Regions from separate parts of the Homo sapiens genome. Here region 2 is linked to region 1. The links come from fine-mapping of genetic effects on gene expression. Tissue or cell type: whole blood. Region 1 holds a variant in brackets; the other region holds the start of a gene. All regions are shown on one strand. Distances are from middle to middle.

Region 1 (8,107 bases):
ATACTTGAGATTGGTTTTTTAAAAATCCCTTGAATTTTCAATGTTGACAATGGTGACTTTGTCAAATACATATATATATGGATCTATATATGGGTATATATGGATATATACATGGATATAGACATAGATATCCAGTTTTCATAAAAACTAGCCAAAACTGGAAAATAAGCAAAAGAATACTGGCTGTGTTTCAGTACAGTGCTATGCTTGAATCTTTTATTAATTTCTACTGACTATTTTACACATCTATAAGATTAAGTTACAGCTTTTCAGCAGATAGAGATGCAAGTAATTTTTTTTTTTTTTTTGAGATGGAGTCTCGCTCTGTCGCCCAGGATGGAGTGCAGTGGTGTGATCTCGGCTCACTGCAACCTCTGCCTAGCAGGTTCAAGTGATTCTCCTGCCTCAGCCTCCTGAGCAGCTGGGATTACAGGCACACACCACCACACCCAGCTAATTTTTGGTATTTTTTAGTAGAGACGGGGTTTCACCATGCTGGCCAGGCTGGTCACGAACTCCTAAACTCAGTTGATCCACCAGCCTCAGCCTCCCAGAGTGCTGGATTACAGGTGTGAGCCACCACGCCCACTGAGATGCAAGTAATTTTTAGCCAGAGGAAAATATAACCCAAAGCCTACTCTTTTATGTTTCTTGTAGGGTATTAACTAATTCTGTATGTAACCCAACAGTCTTAATATTCCCTTATTAAATTGCCTATAAATACCTCCTCAAATTTTCATATTAAGTGACTTTAACATCTTACTAGTTCCCTCATCAATGGGCTGAATCAAAATAATTGATACATGTTCATTTACATTTGCATGGAAGTGATGACTTTACCTTTCTGAAAATTACGTTCTAACAGTTTTGGAGGTTCCACCAAGATGTCCAAGTGGACTAAACTGACAGAGCCAAGTAAGCTACATTGCTGCTTTCATAGACACACAAATACCCCTTACTGAACTCTGAGCTCAGAACCGCTCTCATTTACATAAACCAAAACCTCAAATTTTAGAATTTTTGGTTTAGATGGTATACATCTTTGGAGGGGCCTTTATTTTAACTTTGTACTCTTAGGATCCCGCATCATGTCAAGTATGTAAAATGTGTTCAATAATGGTTAAGTGAATTAATGAAGCTAGAATACACCACATGTACAATGGCAACACCAATTGAAGGAGAGAGATATTCCAATCAAATCCTAGTTGTCTTTGTAACGATCTGGTCAGCTAGAGGAAGGATGCCAAGTTCTAGATGCTCTGAATGTGAAGACAGAGACTCCCCCAAAATGGTAGAAATTCTCATTTTACAAAGACAAGGTGGCTGATGCATACCAGAATTTAAAACTTCCTGCAAAGAAAGAGTGAACCTTTAGCTCCCTAAGAGCTACAGCTCTTAGCAGGCACTACAGACCTACAAGTTGCAATGTCCTAAATACCATAAAAGTGGACATAATCTTAATTACTTTTACCAAAATTTTTCCAAAAATATAAAAAAATTTTCCATACGTATGTATTTCAATTCTATCACAACAGTAAGTTAATAGAAAATGTTTTCTGAATTCACCTCAAAAGACCAAATTTTCTTAGATGTATTTATTTCATAAAGAACATACTAGAACTGTGGAATATAACATAGTATCTACAAGGCACCTGAGTTCCAGGAAAACAAGCACAATATAAATGCAAAGTAATAGCACCAAAGCAATGGACTAGGATTGGATGCTAATCTTGGCTTCTCCAGCCTAACTTGAAAAAAAAAAAAAAAAATCTGGGTCTGGTGCGAGGTGGTTTATGCCTGTAATCCCAACAGTTTGGAAGGCAGAGGTGGGCGGACTGCTTGAGGCCAGAAGTTCAAGACCAGCCTGGGCAACATAGCATAACCCTGTCTCTATTTGAAGAAAAAGAAAACATAAATCTGTTTCTGGACATAAAGGATTATTAGAATCAAAGCTACCTATTGAACAAGTTATGCAACACACACCCAAATACTATTTGCTACCAGAAAGTTATAAATGGGTATATACCTGCGTCACATTGCCAACAATATAGGCCTACCTGATTACTGCACTCACACTTGTCTGTGGTCAAAGGGCTAATTACTATCTAGGCATTTCCCCCTTTGCTTTTAATTCAGGCCAGAGTTCATTTTCACCACTCAGCACACTTTTCATTTCTTTCCCTCTCCTTACAGAATTGGGCTGCACATGGAAGTAAGGTCAATTTAATACTTTAGCACTTGGTATACCAATGGAATAACTGTCTAGCTGCCACTAGTCATTTCTGCCAGGTTCTTTAAAAAGATACGACTTAGTGTTTGCCCTGAGGAAAGCAATACTTCCTTGTAAGAATTATGAAAATAAGGGAAAATCTGCAACTCTCATCGCATGAGGAAAATGTCTTTAACTTTAAAATACACTACTTCCTTTCATTTATAGAAATTTAATGTCTGAGGATATATTTTCCAAGTATAGTCTTTTAAATTAATCTTTATTTTTTCCTTATTTTAGAATGTATTCTTGGTTATTTTGCACAAAAGGCAGAAGAGACTAAGTCTGCATTAACGGCAAAGAAAGAAAGCCCCTGCTCAACAGGCATGACAGCTGATCACGCACCTATTCACAGTCTTTAAATGTCTTGATCTTACAGAAGGATTTATTATAAAAATGATCGTATGGTTACTACCTAAATTCACAGAGGAAGACCGCCACCATCTACAGGAAAGATGCACCCTAGCAATGCACCCAAACATGAAAGACTGATTTGCAGGAGTTGCCCCTTTCTTGTTCCTTAAAATGATTTCAAGTCCTAAATCGCAATTTGGTCGTGAAGACACTGAAGACACTGACCAAATTTTCTAAGGGTAATCTCTTGTAAACAGGTAAGACACCGTTTGCAGGAAGTGGGAAGGCGCTTTAAATTTACCTTGAGAACTGTAAAATGAATAAGAATATTATGACTCACTGACATTTCACACATGTGAAACATCCATATTACAAAAAACCATTGCCTCATAAGTGGATACCCTTGACAAGCAAACCGCCTAGGGGGAACACTCCCAAAGAACTTAATTAAAAGTAATTACCCGGCCTGAAAATGTGCTTTTGTTTTAGAAACTGTCTAAATACCAGCGGGACTTTCTCTTGCCCGATTCCAGCCTGAGGACAACAAA[T/C]TGGTCAACGGCGGAAGTTGCCTGACGAAATGACTGCAACATGAAATCCAGTTTTATGATCATAACAAAACCTTCCTTCCGGGACCAGGCAAAAAAAAAAAACTTGAGAAACGTCCTTCAGAATGCAACAGGCAATTGTGAGCCCCCCATTGCCAGCCAACGAGAAACGGCTCGGCCCCGGGGACTCGAGCCCTGTGGGAGGGACGACCTGCTCCCCGTTAGAAGCTCGGGGGGCCACGGGCCACCCGCCGGCCGCCCCGCCCCTAGCACTGACCTTCCGCAGGGCCGAGACCAACAGTCCCCGCCATTTCGGACTGTTCTCCTCGCTGAAGAACTCGTAAGGCTGCGGCGCCTGCTGCATGGCCCCGGCGACAGCGCCTCCGCATCGGGGGCAGCCCGCGGGCCGGGCCGGTGGCCTGACAGGCAGGGCGCGGGCCGCCTCGCCTCGCCGGCGGCCGCCGCCTCCCGCCCGGGCCGAGGCTACGGCCGAGGCGGCTCGGAGGCGGCGCCGGCGGGCTGGCGGAGACCCCGGGGTCGGCTTCCTCCGCCGAGGCGGCCCTCGCCTCCCGCAGCGCCCGCAGAGGAAGCGCGGCGACCCGCAAGCCCGGGCGACCCCGGGCGGCGACCTCCTTTCCCGGCGGCGCTGGCCCGCTTCTGGGGCGGCTCCTCCTCCTTTGTCTGGGTTCGCGGCCCGTCAGGGGTACAGCTGGCCCAGCCCCGCCCCGACTCCCGCTACGGCCGCGGCGGGCGGTGAGCAGCGGCGGCGGCGGCGGCGGCTGCTCGTCTCCTCATCGCCTCCTCCCCGCCCTCCCAGCCGACAGCGCCGCCCGGCCCTGCCCACTCGAGTCACCTCCACAGAGCTCTGGGGACCGACCCGGAGTGCGCGTCGGGCGAGCGAGCCTCGCTATGGCGCGCACAGCGCTGGCCGCCGTTGCTGCCCCTTTAGCAGCAGCGCAGAGTGCCTTGGGGTCGCCGCTGAGCCCTGAGTCCCAGCAGCCGAGGCTCGGCCCGCCCCCTCGGCCCGGCGCTCATTATCCCGAATAGCCCAAGAGGCCTAACACGGAGCATGCGCGCCGCGGAGCAGGCACAGGCGCCAGCCCGGCGCGGGGGTGCGGGGCCTGGGGCCCCGGGGGAGTCCGCTTTTCCCGAGACTGTGCTGGGGGCCGCTCCAGACTCTTCAGTTTGACTGCTTTTTACCCATATGCTCCCTCCTCTCGACCTGCTTAAGACAATCCGGACTCGGTGCCACTCTTGTAGCGCTGGAGCCCCAGGACTACCGTCGTGGGAGGCTGCATAGGGACGTGGAGAGAAAGGGGCATTCGGGCTGGACAGGATATTTAACGTATTTGTGCTCTACGTGGCTTGTTTTCATGAGTACCGTATGTTTACACAAAGTAGGTACTATATATAATATATCGTTAGGAGATACAGTAACTATTTCTTAGGGTGATGGTGTGGGGACCGAGAGATGAGGCGTGGAAAGCCCTTAGCCTGGTGGTAGGGTCAGAAGGGGCAGATGACAGTGACGTTGATCAAGCTTGAATTGAAAGGTCCTTCACTTGCACGGGCCCCTGTGCGTTCACAAAATCATATCGTTTTTACAAAACTTTCAAGATATTTTCGAATTGTTTTCTTAATCGTGTCATCCAAATTGTGTAGGCTTCAGGTCCTACAAAACCTGGATCGGCGTCTAGGAAACACTCATTAGCAACCCAGAAAAGATCCTGACAAGCTTTTCAATCCAAAGAGGCATAGGCTCTGGTAACTCATTACCACAAATTTCATCCCACTAAAGAGGCTGAGCACATTACTTTTAACAGGTTGTAAAGAAGATATTTTACTCCCTGTCCCTAGCCACCAGCAGTGAGAAAGGGAAAAGACGAACAGGGTACAAAAAATAAGTCAGTACTACAATTCAGTTCCGGCATCAGTAGCTGAGCAATTATTCTCCCCAAAACATGCACCACTTTTTCATTTGGGCAAAATCAGAATGGCAGAGTTGGAAAATAAGATTATTTTTCTAATCCACTAAAGTATCCACTAAATCAAGAACATCCTCTAATAAATGGCCATATCCATTCACATGTACTTGGGATAAAAGGTGGGATGGTAAAATGCTTGTATTTCTCCCATTAATGTTTCAGTCTGTGAGAGCGAAGACTTTGGCTTATATAGAGGGTCCTTACTTTTCTCTCCTGTTCCCAGACTCCAGCTATAAACTACTGTGATGTCAAACTACTAGACCATGTATGTTCTCTTTACTCATAGGAGAGTAAACTTGTTAGAAATCTCATTCTTGGCTAGGAATATCAGAAGGCTTTTCTGGGCCAAGTCAGGCCTGAAGACATATTTTGTTTAGCTAAGGCTGTATTTAAATTTAATTGTTAACATTTTAAAATCAAGAGGCTTCATATAAAAATGTATATTTTCAGCTTCTCTTGACAAAGATCTGGCAACACTGGGACCTACTGCATTCGTGCAAGAGAGTAATCAGCAGGCACCGGGTAGTGGCTGCCCTCTTTATAAAAATATGCCATCCATTTCCAGTTGGCTATACTTCCCACCTGGCACTCTTCACCCTTTTATGTAACTTGCCTAGTCTCTACAGGCATCTGAGTTCTGATGTCTGGGCTGAGCAAACAGAAATATGATCCACGTGCATGTGGAGGATAGTCCAAGAATGACAGCAGTAAAAAGTTTCCCATTCAGGGCCGGGCGAGGTGGCTCACACCTGCAATTCCAGCACTTTGGGAGGCCGAGGCGGGTGGATCACCTGAGGTCGGGAGTTTGAGACCAGCCTGACCAACATGGAAAAACCCCCTCTCTACTAAAAATAACAAAACTAGCTGGGCAAGGTGGCGCATGCCTGTAATTCTTAGCTACACGGGAGGCTGAGTCAGGAGAATCGCTTGAACACGGAAGGTGGAGGTTGTGGTGAGCTAGATCACGCCATTGCACTCTAGCCTGGGCAACAAGAGCAAGACTCCGTCTCAAAAAAAAAAAAGTTTCTCATTCAGACAAATGGGCTATCTAGAAAAAATGTTGGATCCATACCCTATACAATACACTAGCAAAAACTCCAGATATGTCAAAGATTTAAATGTAAACAATAAAACCATACAATGATTCATTTATAACCTCAGAACGGAAAAAGACACTTTCACTATGACACAAGATCTAAAAGACCGATAAATTCAATTTTTATAAATGTATGAGCCGGGCATGGTGGTACATGCCTGTAATCCCAACAACTCCAGTGGCCGAGGTAGAAGCATAGCTTGAGGCCAGGAGTTGAAGACCAGCCTGGGCAACACAGTAAGACCCTGTCTCTTTAAAAAAAAAAAAAAAAAAAAAAAAAAAGGGCAAAAAAAATCACCAGATAAGCCAAAAGGAAAATGACAAACTGGAAAAAATAGCAGCAACTCATTTTTGTGGGTTTTTTGTTTGTTTGTTTGTTTGTTTGAGATGGGGTCTTACTCTAACTCAGGCTGGATTGCAGTGCAGCGGCATGATCTTGGGTCACTGCAACCTCCGCCTCCTGGGCTCAAGTGATCCTCCCACTTCAGCCTCCCGAGTAGCTGGAATCACAGGCACGTGTCACCATGCCCGGCTAATTTTTTGTATTTTTGGTAGAGACAGGGTCTCACCATGTTGCCCAAGCTGGTGCAATTCATTTTTGTAGTTAATTTCAGTAAAATATAAAAGAGCTCCTACAAATTAAAAGGCTAAAATTCAATAAGAAAAACAAAGGGGCCAGGCACAGTGGCTCAACACCTGTAATCCCAGCACTTTGGGAGGCCGAGGCAGGAGGATCCCTTGAGCCCAGGAATTGAAGACGAGCCTGGGCAACATAATGAGACCCCATCTCTATAAAAAAACTTTTTAAAAAATTTAAAACAAAAAAAGAAAAAAGAAGACATACAAATGGCAAATGGGATATGACAAGGTGCTCAACATCATTGATCATTAGAGAAATGCAGATCAAAACTACAATAAGATATCATCTCACCCCAGTTAAAATGGCCTATATCCAAAAGACAGATAATAACAAATGCTGTTGAGGATGTGGAGAAAAAGATAATTCTCTTTTGGGGGTTATACTGTTATCATTTTTCACCTATTAGAATAGCACAGATGAAAAAGTTTGATTACACACTATGATGGTGAAGATATGAGGAAACAAGCATTCTAATATATTGTAAGTGTATTAGGACTATAAATTGTTTCAACTTCTGTCAAGGGGAACTAGATAATATCAAAGTTTCTCTTTGACCTAGCAAATTCTAGGAATATGTCCTGTAGATATACTTGCTCTTACATGAAGTCACTTAGAGACAAGGTTATTCATTGCAGTGTTGTTTATTATACCAGAAGTAAAGCAAAACAAAAAACGCCCTAGAAATAAACAGTTTAAATAATCATCAGTAGGAATAGGGGACTAGTTCAATAAATAATAGTAAATCCATACAGTGGAACCTATAAAGTTATTTTAAAATAACCAGGCCTCTGTGGAACATTATCTAAGATATGCTGCAAAATGAAAAGTGCAGGATGTATAGTACTGCAAGTATGGTTCCTCATATATATATATATATATATATATAAGGAATGCAGCATTTTATTATATAAGCATTTGACTCAAATAATTTCTCTGCATTTACCGTATTGGTCTGTTCGCATGCTGCCAATAAAGACATACCCAATACTGGGTAATTTATAAAGGAAAGAGGTTTAAACAACTCACAATTCCACAGGGCTGGGGAGGCCTCAGGAAACTTTACAATCATGGTGGAAGGGGAAGCAAACATGTCCTTCTTCACATAGCGGCAGCAAGGAGAAGTGCTGAGCAAAAGTGGGAAAAGGCCCTTATAAAACCATCAGATTTTGTGAGAACTCACTATCATGAGAACTGCAGCATGGGAGTAATCGCCCCCAT
Region 2 (8,107 bases), 120 kb before region 1:
CATATGCCCTGAAATAGTGTCCAGCTGATGAAACCTCCTTGGAGAATGAAGAACTGAGAATGTTATTTACCGATTTTTTCTTTCTGATGTATATAATATGAATATCTTCACTTCGATACTCTTCATCATGTTTTTCCAAAGGAATTTTTTCAAAGTCAAAATCTAGCTGAAGGAGCTATAAATTTAAAAGAGACATACTTCAAATTCAATAATATGAACTGACCTGTGGGTGACAGAAGTCAGAATGCTGGTTACTTTTTTTTTGAGAGTCTCACTCTGTCACCCAGGCTGGAGTGCAGTGGTGCGATCTTGGCTCACTGCAACCTCCACCTCCCTGGGTTCAAGTGATTCTCCTGCCTCAGCCTCCTGAGTAGCTGGGATTACAGGCAAACGACACCACACCCAGCTAATTTTTGTATTTTTAGTAAAGAAAGGGTTTCACCATGTTGACCAGGCTGGTCTCGAACTCCTGACCTCATGATCTGCCCATCTCGGCCTCCCAAAGTGCTGGGATTACAGGCGTGAGCCACCGCGCCTGGTCAGTGGTTACCTTTTGAGTATTGCCTGGGAAAGGGCAGTGTGCAAACCTTCCAAGATCCTGAAAATGTCCTCTATCTTTATGTTGGTAAGTAGTTACTTGGGTGTATACATATGAAAAATTAAGCTCAGCACTTGACTGATACATATGCATTTTACATATGCTTTACCCCAATAAAAGCTGTTTAACAGTACGAAATTTTCATTATGCATCATTTCAAAAGTTCATGAACATTTTTCATATTCAAGAAAAACATGAAAATAAACAAACATTTTAGTATTTGTTACCTGAGGCAGTCATATACCTGCTTTCTCATTAAACCAAAGTAGTCCTTCCAGCAGACAAAACTGCAGGCCTATATAGATGTACCCTCAAAAGGAGTCACTCACAATGTGATAGATTTGTGCCCATATAAGGGTTTGGGTGATCACTAGGGGAAGAAGAGTGACAGATACATAAAACCCTATATACTATATTTTGCAACTTCCTGTAAGTCTTTTCTAACTATTTCAGACAAAAAGTTTAAAAAACAAAAAAAAAGACCCTAAAAATAGACAGGTATCTAGGTTGGAGGTTTCATAAATATGTAGAGAAAAACACAGAAGTAAAAACTTATCACTTGGCAACATGGGAAAACCCCATCTCTACAAAAAAATACAAAAAGTTAGCCGGGTGTGGTGGTACATGCCTATAGTCCCACTTACTTGGGGGCGGGGGGGGGGGGGGGTGACACTGAGGCAGGAGGATCACTTGAGCCCAGGAGGTTGAGGATGCAGTGAGCCCTGACTGTGCCACTGCACTCCGGCATGGGCTACAGGGTGAAACCCTGTCTCAAAACAAAAACAACTTATCACCTGCACATTTCTATCACGTATTCTCCAAAGGTAATACATACATCATTGAGATGTTCCCCAAAGGCAGCATCATGTTTAATAAACACTGAAAACTGTTCTTAAAAAGGAGTGGCACCCGTATTAACATTCTTCTGTAGCCATAGATCAACTAATTAGAAATGAAATAAAGTATCAGAAAAGATGAAAAAGGGGAGCTTCGTAGAATCATGGGCTGTGAAGATCCTTTCCTCAGCTTCACACAAACAGCATGTTTTCCCCACCCAAAATTACCATAATATACTTGAAGAGTCACATACAGCCCCCCTGAAGGGAAATCACTACAAAGATAATAGAGTACTTAATACTTACCTCAAAATATTTTTTCTCAATTTCTGGATTTTTCCCCATTGTTCGTTGTTCATAACAACATATAATACAAGTTTCAAATCCGCTGATATCTTTTAGAGTTTTCAGCAATGGCTCCAAAGACTATTTAAAAAAGAATATATTTTTTGTTTTTGATTTAAAAATTTTTCTACTCTAAAAGTAGGTTGAGGAGGTACAGGGGTATTTATAGCTCCCCTACAATTTATCCATCTTTGAATCAATCCAACAAAGCACATGTAATTAAAGCTCTAGGCTAGGTGCAGTGGCTCACACCTGTAATATCAACACTTTGGAAGGCAGAGGTGGAAAGATCGCTTGAAAGCAGGAGTTGAAGACCAGCCTGGAGAATACAGCGAGAGACAAACCACCCCCCGCAACACCTTACAAAAAATTTAAAAATTAGCCAGCATGCTGGTGCACACCTATAGTCCCAGCTATTGAGGAGGCTGAATGGGAGGATTACTTGAGCCTCAGGAGCTCGAGGTTACAGTGAGCTATGATCACTCCACTGCACTACAACATGTGTGACAGAGCAAGACCCCTATCTTAAAACAAAAACAAACAAACAAAAACCCCTCTGTAACTAATGATTGGGTAAGCTCCTGTTAACTAAACCATGTACTGATTTTGGTTTCCAGAAAAAGGATTCAGATGACTGCATTTTGGAGTTCTCATGGGAAACAAATGGAATCAACCTTACTCTTAAAAGTTTAATTTTATTTAATCTAATTTGGGATTTAAATAATCAACGATTTCCCTACAAAAGTTAAATCTGACCCTAACTTGGTTCAATGCTAATTATTTTTAAAATAATCGATGCCCACAACACTATACAAACTGATGTTTTTTTTTTTTTTTTTTTTTTTTGAGACAGAGTTTTGCTCTTGTTGCCCAGGCTGGAATGCAATGGCATGATTTCGGCTCACTGCAACCTCCGCCTCCCAGGTTCAAGCGATTCTCCTGCCTCAGACTCCCAAATAGCTAGGATTACAGACATGCACCACCACGCCTGGCTAATTTTGTATTTTTAGTAGAGACAGGGTTTTGCCATGTAGGTCAGGCTGGTCTCGAACTCCCGACCTCAGGTGAGCCACCTGCCTTGACCTCCCAAGTGTTGGGATTACAGGCGTGAGCCACCGCGCCCGGCCCAAACTGGTATTTAAAGAAAAGAACAATGAATTATTTATAACTTAATTCTCAATGTCATGGTTAACATGTTCCGTGGGAACAACCAAGGGAAAAAGAGAGGATTTTGGCTTTTCATAACATCCAATTGGCAAAATCCTTTAAAATTTTTACAGAAGCCTCTAGTAAAATGCATATAACACTTTTCTCAACATGCTTCACCAGGTCGGTATGATAATGATGAGCGTATATACATATGGTCCCTGGTGACTTTTATCTTCTCTTTACTGCATCAACTATAAGGCAAATCCCGGATTCAAAGATGTTAAAATGTGAAGAAACGTGTGCTTTAGAATTCATGGAATAAGGTTCATCTTCTAAGTGAAGAGACTTCGCTCACTGGATACTTACCTCTTCATAGTATATGCAGTCGGCCATCAGTATGAAGTCGGGTGGAGAAGGAAAGCCTTCTATTTCTTCCCCCCTTAAAAATGCCAAACAAATATTTCAATTGTTTTAATAATTCAAAATACTCTTGTTTTATAAAGAACCGGAAAGTCCCCTTCCATCCTTTTAATGAAACGCAATTCAAAACAAACTACAAATCAATATCTTAAAACAAGCTGAAAGGCCATACAAACCATTTCAGTACCTTGGCTTGAACAGAACCAGTGACAAGATGCTTGTTCATATTAATATTCATCTTCAGCAAGTCTTGCAATTCCTCAAGATCGGTGACTACAACATCAGCCCTATAAAATAACGTCGACTGAGGTGTAGGCACAGGGGGGAAAGCCTGTAATCCGGATTTCCCCAGCAAGAAGGCGCCCCCACATCCCGCCCGCCCGCCAGCTCTTACCCGAGGGTAGCAGCCATGAGCCCCACGGCCCCGGTGCCCGAACCCAGCTCCAGCACCGACCGCCGGCTCAGCGCGTGGGCCCCGTCGCCAGAAAACTCGGGCGTTTCCAGGTATTTAGAAAGGACAATGGCAGCGTCCCACACAACGCAACCCACGCCACCGGAGCTATACTGCTGTAGTCGTAGCACTGTACCATCCCGCTTCTCCAAAACTCGCACAAAGCTCCGCAGTGGGTCCTCCAGCGAGGACTCCAGCGTATCCGCCATTGCGCCCGGCAACAGAAAGCGGCGCGCGCAGGGACGTCACATCAACGCGCACCGCCCCGCCCTGCGGCTCCGCCCCCTGCCCGCCGCTGAGTTGGCGACGCAGCGCGCGCGAGTTAACAAAGCCCGGAAGGCAGCGTTACCTGGGCGGGGCCGAGCGTGGGGCCCCTGCTTACCCGACGCGCTTGGCAGCCTCCCTCTACCCTAAATCACACGTTTGGCTTAACGAAGAGGCCGTTTAAATCACTTTCCCAGACAAAACTATTATAATCTGCTCTTTAAAAAACAAAGCCAACCTCAGAGTTTACCAAGTTGGACACTTGATTTACATAGTAGTTACAAGGCTTAAATGCAATCAGCTTCCAAGATCCTACCAAAGATGGCTATAATCTTACAATCTTCCTTTTCAAGTTCCTAGTATGCTCCTAGTTTTTTGTATGAATTCATAAAAGTGGTTGCTAGAAGCCTGCAGCTCACATTTAACAGTGAAGAAAAAATTGTGTGTGTGTGTGTGTGTGTCTATAGGACTCAACAATCTCCCCCTTTGTTCCTTATAATGAAAACACATATTTTAAAAGTCTTTTAAAAATTAAGACTGGGGTGATTTATTAATCTTGTTAAGAACTCTGATACAAAGCACAGTAAAAGGCCACAAACCAGTAAATAAACAACGTGGCTTTTGGCTACTTTACAACTGCTGCTACAGCACTATCAGCAAAACACTCTATCACTTTGAACGAAGGCATCCAAATGGCAAATAAAAGCTTTACTCACTTATCTGATTAAAATGTTTAATAAAGCTTTAAGTATTTGCTGGTTTAAATATTACCAATCTAAAAAATATATTTAAAAAAAATTTCAGTTAACACGAGATTTATAGAGAAAGTTACTAGGTCTTGAAGGCAAGGCAGTTGGTTCCTATGCCATAGAATTTTTTTTGAATTTATGAATTAGTAAAGTAGCAGATTGTATTATAGGCCTCAAGTCACTTAAATTTATATAGGTTATTAGCAGTATCTTTAAATATACAATATAAACAAAACTGTACATACATGGCATATTAACTGTTTTCCATAACAATAGGCAATTCATTAGCTAAAGACGTCATAGTCTGCAAAAACAAAAGGCACATCTGAATGAGATACATGCCCTTTTTCCCTCCATCATTGGGTTATGTAGTCTTTGTTTACATTTTGACAAAATAATAAACACTTACAGTGCCATTCTATTATTTTCATCCTACTTTTCATTTTTGTCTTCAGCAGCAAATACCGGCATTTAAGACATGGCATTAAAGAGTTTAAGAACAGTTGGTGTTATTCACAATTCTCCTAGATGTAAAAACTAGAAGTAAAAACTAGAAGATGGTCAAAGAGGTTTAAAAATCAGTAACACCATATACCCCTCCCATATTTGTGTAAATTCACTGCCTTAAAAAGGCATCTATTACTCAAATTTGAAAAATTTCACAAAAGCACTATCCCTTTTCAGTGCAATCATGTCACTTTAAACCATATTTTTGCAGAGTTTACAGTGCAAATATAAATTCTTTATACTGGCCTTTTGGCAGCACTGAGGATCCAAGACAAGGCAATGCTACTGATCACCTGAGGATAATGGTGAAGGACTTTTGTATTTTTATTTTTCCAATTCTTAAAAGCTTATTTGATCAGTAGCATTTTTGTAAGAGCATTATTTGTAAAAAGTACTAAAATACTATGTCTTTTTTTGAATAAATTAAAAAAAAAACTTTACAAATACCATTCCAGTGTCAATGACTACATATGGCTAAGGTCATTGGGGAGTTTCTGCATTTTCTAGCAAAGGCAGTCTGTACAATGGGGGGTGCGAAAGCTCCCGTTTGTAAGTCTTTGGTGGCAGTTTTGGCAGATGAGGGCTTGAATTCTGCCTTGGTGGAACAGGGGGAGCTGGAGGATGAGCAAGATTATTCTGACTAGAACTGAGCACATAGCATCGACGCGGTACCCTTGGAGAGGGTGTGCTAGGAGGAGTGCTTGGCGAATTTGGACACGTACTAATGTCTCTGAGCCAGTCTGAATCTCTGTGAAGATGCCCCAGTGGAGGTGGCTGAAGATTAAATGGACAGTTTATAAAGTGTTCTGGAGGCCGAAGGGGAACTGGTGGAGGGGTATCAGGAAGAGGATCTCTTGGTGGTGGCGGAGGTGGACTATGCAGAGGCCCATCAAATGCACCAGTAGGAACAGGAACTCTGGGTTTTACCTTTGGAGGAGGAGGCTGTCTCGGTGGAATAGCAGGAGGATCATCATCAGATTTCATATTTCCCTCAAAAAAAAAAGTAATTAAATTATACCTCTATTCTGAAAAATTAAAAAAAAAAATTTTTAAGTCTGAAAAATTCTTACTTGTCAAGTTAAATTCAGAGGCTCAAAATAAACTAATCTGGGTTAATTATCAGATTATGAGTACTCCTAGATTAATTCAGGGCTGGGTTTAATATTTTTATATATGAGATGTTTTAATTTAAGTCTTAGGTCCTAACTCTTTATCTTGCTTTGTGTATACATTTCAGAAATTTATGTATTTTAATTATAATAGTAGGTAAGTGACAATAATTTATTGCTTTATAGACATGAAAGGACATGATGTCTAGAGGACTTTAATGTCTAGCTTCTGCTTACTGGGCATCTACTGCTACTTTCTCCAGTGAGGCTTAGAGCAGTAGATCTCAAAGTGTGATCCAGAGACCAACAACATCAGCATCAGTAGGGAACTTGTTAGAAAAGCAAATTCTTGGGCCCCATCCTAGACTACTGAATCAGAAACTCTGGAGGTGTGGCTCCACAGTCTGATTTTACCAAGCCTTTCAGGTAATTCTGATGCACCCTTAAAATTTTGAGAAGCATTAGTTGAAAGTTTGAAGAATACTTGGAATACTACTGAAGTTTTTTTCCACCTGTACCAGAAAGAAAATGTACTTCCAGCCTCTTTTTTATTTTTTTATTTTTATTTTTAGTTTTTGAGACAGAGTCTTGCTCTGTCGCCCAGGCTGGAGTGCAATGGTGCGATCTTGGCTCACTGCAACCTACCTTCACCTCCCAGGTTCAAGTGATTCTCCTGCCTTAGCCTCTTGAGTAGCTGGGATTACAGGTGCCCGCCACCATGCCCGGCTAATTTTTGTATTTTTAGTAGAGACAGGGTTTCACCATATTGGCCAGGCTGGTCTTGAACTCCTGACTTCAGATGATCTGCCTGCCTCAGCCTCCCAACCAGCCTTTTTTTTTTTTTTTTTTTTTTTTGAGACAAGAGTTTTGCAATTGTTGCCCAGACTGGAGTGCAGTGGCACGATCCTGGCTCACTGCAACCTCCAACTCCCAGGTTCAAGCGCTTCTCCTGCCTCAGCCTCCCCAGTAGCTGGAATCACAGGCACCCGCCACCACACCCAGCTAATTTTTTGTATTTTTAGTAGAGATGGGGTTTCATCATGTTGACCAGGCTGGTCTCGAACTCCTGATCTCAGGTGATCTACCCGCCTGGCATGAGCCACTGCGCCCGGCCCAGCCTCTTATTTAGAAAAGGTTTTTATAAGGATTAAACAACTAAAAGTATTTTTCAAATATAACAACCCAAATGCTGAAAAACCATAAATGGTAGCCAAAGTATAATTCACAGACTCTTTATAACACTAGGCATTATTTTGAAGATTCACAACTTTGAATAAGTTGGAGTAAAGTCCTGTTGATTACCTTGGAATTTGAAGCATCATGATCAAACTTTTTTCGAGGAGGAAGAGGAGGAGGAATCAGGGGCTCTTCACTTAGTTTATGTAAACTACCACATGAACTAAAGAAAGACTCTGGGGGAGAAAAAGACTAGTTTAACCACAATTCACAGTATAAGATAAACCTTTATCACAATTTGTGATCGATACTTCTACCATGGCATTTGTCAGACTGTATCAACTATTGGTTTATCTATCTTCCCCCATTAAATTGTAAGCTTTCTGCAGGGAGTGTGTATTTATTTCTGTGTCTCTAGCACCAACCATAGTGCCTGGGGCATGATGGGTACTTCAGCTAAATGAAGGTGTACTATTTAATTATGATTAATGAGATTCTGCTCC

Evidence for each region. PIP is the estimated chance that this variant, and not a neighbour inherited with it, causes the effect.
Region 2: it holds the start of VCPKMT, and the variant in region 1 is fine-mapped to the expression of VCPKMT in whole blood (TOPMed, PIP 0.90).

Annotation. Positions count from the first base shown.
Region 1 is chr14:50,227,752-50,235,858 of GRCh38, forward strand. SOS2 (SOS Ras/Rho guanine nucleotide exchange factor 2) reads right to left here and starts at 3,827. Exons shown (of 23, transcript NM_006939.4): 1 at 3,446-3,827. The coding sequence starts at 3,532. RefSeq lists a silencer at 3,419-4,498 and an enhancer at 4,649-4,738. The variant T/C (reference allele first, on the strand shown) is at 3,172.
Region 2 is chr14:50,112,545-50,120,651 of GRCh38, forward strand. It overlaps VCPKMT (valosin containing protein lysine methyltransferase), which reads right to left and starts at 4,028. Exons shown (of 6, transcript NM_024558.3): 1 at 3,743-4,028; 2 at 3,525-3,635; 3 at 3,295-3,367; 4 at 1,741-1,860; 5 at 71-175. The coding sequence starts at 4,008. It overlaps SOS2 (SOS Ras/Rho guanine nucleotide exchange factor 2), which reads right to left. Exons shown (of 23, transcript NM_006939.4): 22 at 7,731-7,840; 23 at 4,586-6,309. The coding sequence ends at 5,800. RefSeq lists an enhancer at 3,965-4,024.